2 separate regions of the Homo sapiens genome follow, and region 2 is linked to region 1. The links come from fine-mapping of genetic effects on gene expression. A gene starts in region 1. The other region holds a variant in brackets. All regions are shown on one strand. Distances are between the middles of the regions.

Region 1 (5,381 bases):
TAACAAGTTAAACTTAAGCTGAACTCACATCATTTATCATCAGGCAACCAGTATTCTCTAATATCAGGTATCACATTATAGTATAATTACTGAATAAAAGACAAGGAAGAATCCTGAAGATGAAATTTAAAAGTGAATTTCTGGATCTGTAAGAAAGGTGAATTTCCCAGTAAATGCAGGAGACTCCATGAGCAGTGCAAATTAGTCTGTTACACACCATTTTAAAACATATAATCCATACAGGAATTCCAACTGGTTAACAAATTCCATAAAGAAATGAAAGTTGTCTCTATGAAGAGGGCACAATGAAGCACCAGAAATATGATAACCATAAGCTTTATTTAACTATAATTTTCTATATTAACAAGCTCCTTTCCTATTTATCTAAATCAAATGGCTTTTATTCCACACCAATAACCTGCAAATATGACTGCCTTGGACTCACAACTCACCCCTAAGGAATCTGCCTTATGTTTGGAATCTTATTTTCACTGCATTAAAGCAGTACAGAAAAAACATTACCATATATATGACAAGGAATAAGAAGATTCACAAACGTAAGGATAGCATAAACTCATTGTTCAGGAATGTGATTGGTTACCCCATCTAACAGTCTGGTGAAAAGTGCCCAGGGAAATGAACACACAACACAGAAATACAGTCAGAAAATGAAGAGGTAGCCAATGTCCCGTTCCCACCCCCACAAAACTCCAGGATTTCTTGATAGAATGAATGTCTGCATTACTATTTTTTTTTTAAGATTTCTCTGTATTAAGGATTCCATAAACTCGTTATTCAGCTCATTCCAATGCCTGGCCCAACTGGATATACTACTAACTTAAGCCTAGGTGCAAATCAGTGTTTTGTTTTTGTTTTTGTTTTTGTTTTTGGAGACAGGGTCTGGCTCTGTCGTCCAGGTTGGAGCACACTGGCGCAAATCTCGGCTCACTGCAACTTCTGCCTCTCGGGCTCCAGTGATTCTCGTGCCTCAGCCTCCCGATCCGCTGGGACTACAGGGGCGCGCCACCATGCCCGGCTAATTTTTATTTTTTGTATTTTTGGTAGAGAAAAGGTTTCGCCATGTTGCCCAGGCTGGTCTCCAACTCCTGAGTTCAAGCGATCCGCCTGCCTCAGCATCCGAAAGTGCTGGGATTACAGATGTGAGCCACCACGCCAGGCCAAATTAGTATTATTCTTTTAAGAACCGAAGAAGGCTCAGGTTGAAAATTTTTAATTAAAAAAAAAAAAGAAAAAAGGTTTCCTTGTTTTTAAATATTTTAATGGAAACATATGAGTCAGATTTCAAAAAGTAGGCTAACGGTGTTTAAATACTGTGCCAGTGTATTTGAGAAGCTGAATGAAAACAAAAGTACCTATATTTTAAAAATAAATACAATACAAATAAGGAAAAGTTCATTCTACGATTTCAATTTATCAATCAAGCTACATGGTAAAGAGAATCATTTCAATTGTTTTTCACCTCCACAGCAGTGTTTGAGGTTGGTAGGCTCTCCCAGGAAGCTTGGAATCTTAAGCAACTCTCAATTAGCCCTCAATTTCTCTATTTTAAATTAATCTGCTGACCTGTTGTGGGTAAACATCCATAAATTCTGCCCTGGCTGAGAAACATTTAACTTTTTCGTCTAGGATGAATGTGTGGGTGTGTGTTTGTAAGGGAGGGGTAACTCCTTTTGACCAAAGTGTTGATGGTTTTCTAAGTAAATACTTGCTATCCACAAGAATTTTTTTTTTCGTTTATGCTGCTTTTTCTCCCTTTCTGCACTATAAAGGCTGGCCTTCCAATTCCTGCCCCGACCCTTCACCGTGATCCAATCCCACAAGGTTCCCCTAATTTCTGCTCCGGGTGGCACCTGACGGCCAAAAGTGAACCCCTGCGGTTGTCGCCAGCTAGACGCGGATAGGGCGGACGACTGTCACCGGGGAGCAGGCGTGGGCCAAAGCCGAGGTGATTTCTGACTGCTCACTGGCGGGCCTCGCGTGGCTGAAGGTCTCCGAGCCCCTCGGTTCGCCCCGGCAAGCCAGAAGTGCAGCTGTCGCGGGGCAGGAAGCTAATCGCGGCCCCTGCGCCGCTTTGACAGGCCGAGTGAAGAGAAAACGGGCTCACTGCAGCTAACAGCCTCACCCCTTGGGCTAGGAAGCCACGGAAGCAAAACCTCCGCCCCGGCCTGAAAGCAACCGGGAGACCGCGGAACCACTGCCACCGACTCAGCCCTGCCCAGCAGGGGCCCGCCCAGGGGCCACTCCCCAAGGGAGGCAGCCAGTCACTCGCCCGCCCTTCCGGGCCCACTCCCGAGGGGACGGTCTCCCGCCCGCCCTCACACACAGCTAGCTCTTCAGGCCAGGCCCCCAGGGTTTCGTCCACCTCTCACCTTTGACGACGCGGTCAGCCCCGGGAGGGGGCGGCGGGGGCGGGGGTGGGGGCGGTGCAGCCCGGGCCGGCTCCGGGGCGGCCATGCTGGGCCCGGGGCTCGGCTAGGCTCTGGGCCGGGCGGGGTTGGGGGCGGGGGCGGCGGCTACCAGAGCCAAGCGGCGGCGCCGCCGGGGAACATGGCGGACCCTCTTTCCCTACAGAGGGGCTAAGACCGGCATGCACTGCGCGTGCGGGGGTGGGGGCGGGGTAGGCTCTAGGGACTTGGGCAAAATTACTGAAGCTAGGAGAGAAACAGGACGAGGCCAAGGGATCAGGTTAAAATTCTTTGCATGCAGAATGAAGAATGAGGAGGTGCTGCGATCGAACGACTGCGAGGAAACACACCCGCTCTCATGGCATTCCCAGTAAACTGAGAAGACGTGATTAAACCTCAGGATCTCCTACTAATAGAGAAATGTATAACGATTTAGCTACCAGATCTGAATACTGAAGGGTTGGTAGGGGACCAGAGAATAGAGGAAGCATTGTAGGTTCTAGAGTGGAGAAGGGACCATCCAAAATGGAGTTTGAAAGAGAATTCTGGCCTTTGTGTTTAGAGTCTGGAATTGTCAAGAGTCTGAAAGCACAGAATAAGACTGCAGCTAGAGCAATTTAGGCGCCATAGTTTGTCAAAACAGGTAAGGGGAATAAAGGGGATGACACCAAGAGATGTGCAAAGAATCTGAAGAATTCACCTGAAAAGGATACAACCTCCTCCTGGAAGGCAGAGGAGTAAATAGGGAATTGGAAATTAATTCCTTATTTCTGCACATGCACAGAATCTGGGCCCAGGTGACTTATGGAACCTTTATAGAGACCACGGTGACTGACACTCATGGGAAAGGGGGTAGAGGGGCAAGAACTGACTGTTCATCAAAAATTATTAGATGAGTGTGTCCACGACACCAGGAGATATGTTGAATCATGGACAGGGACCAGCATATCCACTAAGCTCTATATATCTTGATGGTGCAGGATCCAAGTGGGATGGAACAACCAATTCCTGCCCATCCTCCTGCTCAATAATACATGTGCTCAGAATCTGTTCATAATGCATGGTGGTAAGTAAGTAGTAGTCCGAAGGTCCAAGGAGTACCTTTCTACCTCTTCTTTGTGTCAATTTCTATCCTGAGACCCCAGGAAAAGAGGAAGGGAAAGACCCAACAATGGATTTTTTCCAAAAAGGGAACCCACAAGCTATTTTTTAGAGGGAAGAGTCTCGGGAGTGAGGCACAGGTGAAAATGGATCTTTCTGGCATGGAAGGGCCATAACACCACAGGGGAAGGGAAAGGGAGAGGCCCCCACGGAAGGAGAGGAAGGAAGGGACAGGAGGCACGTCACAAACTTATAAGATAGAGGGAAGGCACCTGGAGTACATTGATCAGGAGTGAGTCTGTAAGAAGAGCTTGAATCCCCAGAAAATCTTCCTAAGGAGGGGAGGAAGGAAGTGTATAATGTACTGAGTACTGAATGCTCTGTCAGGAAAGGGATGGGAAACATCCTAGCAGCAATACTAGAAAGGAAAGGCACCCTATTTTAGGACCCATTGATTCCCACCTTGATTGTATATCCTTCAACTCGTCTCTGGCTCCTCACTTCCACTCAGTCAAAAGCCACTTCATATATTTATCCAGACTTCCAGCCCCAATACAAAGAAAGCAAGAGCATACAAAGGGAAGAATGACAAGGAATTAAATAGAACTGTCTTATAGATTTATTAATGAAAAATACTTTACAAAAACAGTATGTTTGGCCTAAAATAGTTCAGCTGACTCTGAGGGTTTACATTGACGACTGAGCAAGTGGCAATAATGGCTGTGTTATTGAGGACAGAAGGCTGTGTTAGTGTGCCTGACTCCATCTGTTCAAAAGGGTGAATGTTATGTTGGCAGCTCCGCATTCTAGGCCTAAGGTTTGGAGGGCACAGGGAATGCTGACAGGCCATAATACCTGGGCAGGGGGGCTGCCCTGATGATGTCATCAGAACCATGACCACAGGGCTACATGTCCCCCCAAGGATGGGAGACAGGGAAGACAAAGGGTCAGGTAATAGGGATAGGTGGATAAAACAAAGAGTAGAAGTTGGGAGTATAGTAGGGAACAGAGGATGAGGGCTCAGGTGGAGGTGGGGACATAAAGCATCCAGGAATAAAATGTGACCTTAAAATCCTAAGGAATGGCTAGTATCCAGAGTAATACCATGGATTCATCTTTAAAGTGGCTCAGATAAAACCCTTAAACAGCAGCTGCTTCCTTTTGCTAGGGGGAATGGAAGTTGGAATTTCAAATATCCCCTCCCAAAGAATCACATCTTTTTAGAGGTTCCTGACACCCTTAGGAGAACCCACCAATTCTATGTTGAGATGAGAATAGCACAACCATGGCAGTGATGCAGGGTACCAACGCTGCCACAGTAGTTTATTTTGTTGTTGTTTTGTTTTGTTTTTTGAGATGGAGTCTCACTCTATTGCCAAGCTGGAGTGCAGTGGTGCGATCTCGGCTCACTGCAACCTCTGCCTCCCGGGTTCAAGCAATTCTCCTGCCTCAGCCTTCCGAGTAGTTGGGACTACAGGCACGCACCGTCACGCCTGGCTAATTTTTTGTATTTTGGTAGAGACGGGGTTTCACCATGTTGGCCAGGATGGTCTCAATCTCCTGACCTCGTGATCCACCCGCCTCAGCCTCCCAAAGTGCTGGGATTACAGGTGTGAGCCACCGCGCCCGGCCCACAGTACAGTTTTACAAAGAAAGGTGTAGCTCCAGGAAAGGAAAGGAATAACCTTTACCATTGACTGTGCTGCAGGACTCTAGCCCTGATCTGCTCTCTTCTGGGAGCATCTGATAGAACAAACAGAAACCCCTCTCCCACTGTTCTCCTGTGTCCAGAGTGGGAGGCATAACTGCTTTGCCTCCAGTCATCATCTGGGGGCATATCTACTCTTCGAGGAC
Region 2 (5,381 bases), 58 kb before region 1:
TGAGTTTGGTTCCTTTCTCTTATTTTCCTCTTAATTTTTACCATCAATCCATAGTTTTTTTGCTAATACTACTTAATGCTCACCCATGATTCCCACAAACACTATATAATGCTAGTTATGTACCTAAGGGCTAGGAAAGTTCCTGGCACCTAATATACTAGTTAAACTCTTACTTACTTTTTAATTTTTCTATTGGGTCTATTTTAGCCAGATAAACTCTTTACTGAATAGCTTTCATAAAACAACATCGACAACAATCTTTAAGGTATGCAACTTTCATAAACAACATAGACAACAATCTTTAAGGTATGCAATGCATAATAACTTTAGAGCCAACTCATGGACTGCTTTGTAAGTTAATATTTTGGCAAGCAGAGAGTTATAATAATTAACAATTTGTGGCCGGGTGCAGTGGCTGACGCCTGAAATCCCAGCACTTTGGGAGGCTGAGGTGGGCGGATCACGAGGTCAGGAGTTTGAGACCAGCCTGGCCAACATGGTGAAACCCCATCTCTACTAAAAATACAAAAATTAGCCAGGCGTGGTGGTGGGCACCTGTAGTCCCAGGTACTTGGGAGGCCGAGGCAGGAGAATTGCTTGAACCCAGGAGGCGGAGGTTGCAGTGAGCCAAGAGCATGCCACTGCATTCCAGCCTGGGTGACAGACAGAGATTCCGTCTCAAAAAAAAAAAAAAAAAAGCAAAAGAAAAAGAAAAAAGAAACAATTTGAGAAGTTCTGTTTGTTACCTGGAATTAGGCAAGCATGTGTGTGTGTGTGTGTGTGTGTGTGTGTGTGTGTGTGTGTGTGTGCGCTTGCCTAATATATTTACATATATTTTGTTTGTTTTTAAGGGATGGGGTCTCACTCTGTCACCCAGGCTGGAGTACAGTGGTACAATCATAGCTCAACACAGCCTGCAACCATGAGCTCCTAGGCTCAAGCAATCCTCTGTCTCAGCCTCCCAAAGTGTTTGGATTACAGGCATGAGCCACTGTGCCCTGCCTATATTTTGACTTAGTGTTTTATAATATATCTCATTGTAATTATTGTTGAGAACTATAATTCAAGTTATTGTATGATTATATAATTTTGAGCAATATCCTAATATCCCTCAATGTGCAAAATCCTATACTTATTGTGATTATGACAAAGAAGAAAGGAATGATAGGAAAATGCAATTATCACTAATATTTTTCTTATTGTTAGAACACCCAGTAAATTCCCAATACCACTATAACAAAATTCTAGACAATAACATATTTTCTTTCAATTAAAAGACAATAAACAGTGATCTTAAATATTAGACTTAGGAGGCCTACAGTAGGCATTCAAAGTCCTCTAGTGCTCAGTTACTAATGCTCATGTAAAACAAGTATATAACAAAAGTTTTTTTTAAGGCAAAATTTATAAAGAATTTAATTAATCAAATTACCATGAACTATCCACGAGATAATCTCCGGAGGACATCCCAGCTCTAGTAACAGGATTTTCTGATTTGCATCAAAAGGACAAATCAGATTGCATCTTCCAAATAAAACCCAACACAGAGATAGGAGCAGCGGCCCATGCATGGAATTTATTGTGTGCTACTGTTTATAAAATACTCGAATAGTCCTGCACATGCATAATATTTCCAACTTAGACAGGAGACCATACAGGGTGCACTTTCTGGCAAACAAAACAATAGATGGTTCCGCTGCCTGGAGCTCTGAGTTGTATTCCAGGGCATGAGGGAAGCAGGCCACCAAAGTAAAGGGAAATACCAAACTACAGTGGCAATCAATACAGGTCAATAATTGTGAAAAATTAGCACATGGTTCCATTTAGTTTAACCAAGCAGTTCAGTAACTATCAAAAGAAAGGTTTCAACATGCAGTCTTGACTTTTATGCTTCCACTAACATCTGAATGATTGAACAGAACCATTGCTTCTAGGCTGCATTGCTTAATCAAAAACACTTCCAGAACATTTTAAAATTTCCTTTGCATTAAAACATAAAAATGATAGAAAGCCAGCAGCAAATCACCCTGGTGGCTCT[C/T]TAAGCAACTTGAGTACTCACAATAAACTAAAATTTCTCATAACATCTAGGTAACCTATACATGTCGTACCTGTACATCATAGGTCTATATATTAAATATTTGCAAAATGAAAACATGCATACACAAAATACGTCAAGTTTTACAGACATGATTTGAATTAAAATTTACTTTGACAATGTACAAACTTCTTTTAAAGTACCTTAAATGAGTAATTCTGTAATTCTTCATAATTTTGAAATTTAGAGGTTTTCTTCTTAAATCTCTGGGGTGTAAGTCTTAAAAGATCTGGGCAAAAAAGACTCTAAATTAGTTTTTGGATTTGTGTTCAAGTAAGAGAGCCTGCCTGGAAATAGGATATGCATTCATAATTAAAAAATACCAAGACTATGTTACAGAATTAGCCACATTTAAGAACTATAGACCTGAGGTCAACATTTTGTATAAATGCCAACTGGGTTTCTCGGCATTTTGCTCACAATTCAAAATACAGCTAGTAACCTCAGAAATGTATTTTAAGACCATGCTAATTCATCCTTTAAAGACATTTCATGGAAAAAGAAAAGTCCACATTAGCTCTTAGGATTGCATTTGAAATCATGATTGAAAAACAAAATCTAATTCTACTGAAGGGGAAAAGAAATCTGATTTGTAAACTTAAATGTGTGAACCACAAGCATAAAATGGAGGTGTGGATGCCCTCCACTGGAAATTGCCCCAAGCCCCTTGCTCACTGCTCTCCACCTTGGCAGCGATGACCCAATCTTATCAGATAGCACATGTCCCAGGGCCCTCAAGCCTCCATCCAGGAAGGGGGCTAGGGTCTCAGAAGCACAATGGTTTCTTCAGAGAGACTGTGAAATTTACAGTCAGCTTGGCCGACCCCTCCAGCTCCTCGGGTGATCTGTCCATTTGGGGCCCGAGATGTGAGAGTCCCTGGGAAGTAGTGGGTCACTGGGCAGTATGGTTGCCCGTCCCGTGGTTCTCAGTGGCATGTGCGGTGTTCAGAGAATTGAAACCATCTTGCTGTACAGCATCTTTCCGAGGTGGCATTCTCTCATTGATCCTATCCAAACCCTTTGCCTCTTCAAAACTGCAGATTCTATGTGGTGGAGAGAATCCTCGTATTGCTTAATAAAATGCAAATTTGATAAGTCAGTAATTGAAAAACATTTCTGAGATTTCAAAAACATAATTAATGATTTTTAAGAAGAAAGAAATTAGTAGCTGTAAGTAGCAACACATAAATCTTACTTTAACTGAATCCTATCCTCATTTCAGTCTTTCCTTAAAATGTGAAATGTTTAAACCTAAATATAAACATCATAGCTTTATAGGTGACAAGTGTTAGCAAAGCCTTCCAAAAAATAAAAATACAAAAAAAATGTTAACCCTCTCCTGCCCCCAAAATCAACCTCCAGGCAATGGTCTCAGGGTCTCAGTCTGACTTCTACTATACCAATTATCTCCTACATCAGTCCCTAAGATCACCAGTGACTATCACAGTAAGGCAGCAATGAGAGTAGGGGCAAGTGAGGAGGCTAAACAAGGTTAATCCTCAATATACAAATCTGTACCAAGAGCTTGGGAGGAGAAAGAGTTAAAGAAAGGTTAAAATACAGTAGATCAGAACTATCTTGGAGGTCAAGGTCAGCCCATCGCCACCAATATAACATTAAAAAGGTGGAAGTGCCTCCAAGAGTTAGATCTGTGTATGGCTGATAGCAAAAAAGTATTTATAATCTCGTAATTTAGAAGATGTTCTCCTTAATTCATTGGCCATACTGCACAGTCTTTGGAAACTCAAATCAAAATAAATGGCAATTCTCCACCAATTGTATGGTTTCTCATTCACTTCATCTAGAATGATGCATCCTCCATTATTAAAGTGTTCATAGGAAATATTTTCAAACCACTGGTTATAATCTGGTTGCTTAATATCTGCAATCCTTAGGTCTTAGTCTGGCACATGAACCAAACAAATGGCTGGGGCTACAAACACTGAGGAATGTGAAATACCAAGCCAACACATATATATATGAACATAATCTTATCCATAAACTATAGCCCAAACTGCGGCCAAAAAAGAAAAAAGAAAATCATTATAGTGACAGTTCCTGTATTCTCAGTCAGGCACACTAGTTTGTAAAAACAAACTCACACCTATACCTAGAGGAGGATTCACTTAGGGAAAAAAAATCTGAGTAGCATAGAATCATGCAAAATATGGAACAGATCTCTATTTGCAGGTCAGTTTGGCAATTTCCATTAAAACAGGCAACTTTATAAAGCTATACTGTATAGCATAACATGCTATACTCTAAAGAAATCAGAAACATTACTTTCTGATTGCATATTACACCGGAAAGAAGAAAAAGACTGTCACCATAGACATCAGCCCTTCTGATTTAAAAATGAAAAATTAAAAAAAGAGGGCTGCAAGGCTTCTAAACTTGATGAATCAGTGAGTCTGATTCATCTTGGGCTGTAAAAGCTAGGAGTAAAACACACCCACAGGACATTCTCTGATGCCCACCCACACACCACAGATCTCTGCCCAGCACAAGGACTCTGATCATACCTTTTTCAGCCTCAATAGCCTCAACTGTGGCTGTACAGAAGTGAGCAGAGGCATGCAAAATGAATGAGAGAGATGAGAAGGGTCATATTGTACAGCAGAAAAGGCAATGATCACTTAAAATATCACAGTATCCCATACTACATCATCATTTAAAATTTAACATAAATAGTACCCAAATTAGAGAGCCCCATCCAAACCCCCAATTCCTGACACAGCACAGTTTACACACAGCACTATGACAACATCACTCAGAGCACAGAACACATAAACCTACTGTAAACACAGACACCTCAGCACCCATGCAAATGCACTCCAGTATTAATTACCCATCTTGAATCAGTAATTTGATGGCCTTAGAATTTTCCATTATGTTTATTATATCACATCCATCACAATCACAGGAAAATGCTCTAGGGTAAAATTATAATAGAATTGTAGCAGAAAAGCAAACAGAAAAGTCTTTTCTTTCATGTCAGTGAGAACAATACTCATTACCAGTTGGTTCCCTAAGACATAAACTAGAAGGGGTCAGCAATGCTTTACCTGTTACTTGTAATTTATAAGGCAAAACATAAGCTGCAAGAGCTGATATGACTACAGTGAAATTTAAGGGCAGTAAACTTGATGAATTACTATAAGTAGAACAGTTCTGTGGCTCTGTTCTTTGTGGGGGACCTGAAAGGACTTCTCCTGTCTACCAGTAACTTCCTTTCTATTCTAGTACTGATGTTCCAAATACCTACAGATACTAACATCTATAGCCT

The links. PIP is the estimated chance that this variant, and not a neighbour inherited with it, causes the effect. A credible set is the group of variants that fine-mapping cannot tell apart.
Region 2: its variant is the best candidate, but not a certain one, in a credible set for the expression of PPP3CB-AS1 in whole blood (INTERVAL, PIP 0.77).

Annotation. Positions count from the first base shown.
Region 1 is chr10:73,493,415-73,498,795 of GRCh38, forward strand. PPP3CB-AS1 (PPP3CB antisense RNA 1) reads left to right here and starts at 2,338. Exons shown (of 5, transcript NR_132104.1): 1 at 2,338-2,403; 2 at 2,728-3,069. PPP3CB (protein phosphatase 3 catalytic subunit beta) reads right to left here and starts at 2,610. Exons shown (of 14, transcript NM_021132.4): 1 at 2,391-2,610. The coding sequence starts at 2,475. USP54 (ubiquitin specific peptidase 54) reads right to left here. Exons shown (of 24, transcript NM_001391956.1): 24 at 4,124-5,381. The coding sequence ends at 5,215. RefSeq lists enhancers at 1,677-2,136, 2,627-2,816 and a silencer at 2,197-2,546.
Region 2 is chr10:73,435,255-73,440,635 of GRCh38, forward strand. PPP3CB (protein phosphatase 3 catalytic subunit beta) reads right to left here. Exons shown (of 14, transcript NM_021132.4): 13 at 4,618-4,647; 14 at 1,179-3,166. The coding sequence ends at 2,988. Among named protein-coding and RNA genes, the nearest start is that of MSS51, 4.4 kb to the left of the region's middle. The variant C/T (reference allele first, on the strand shown) is at 2,039.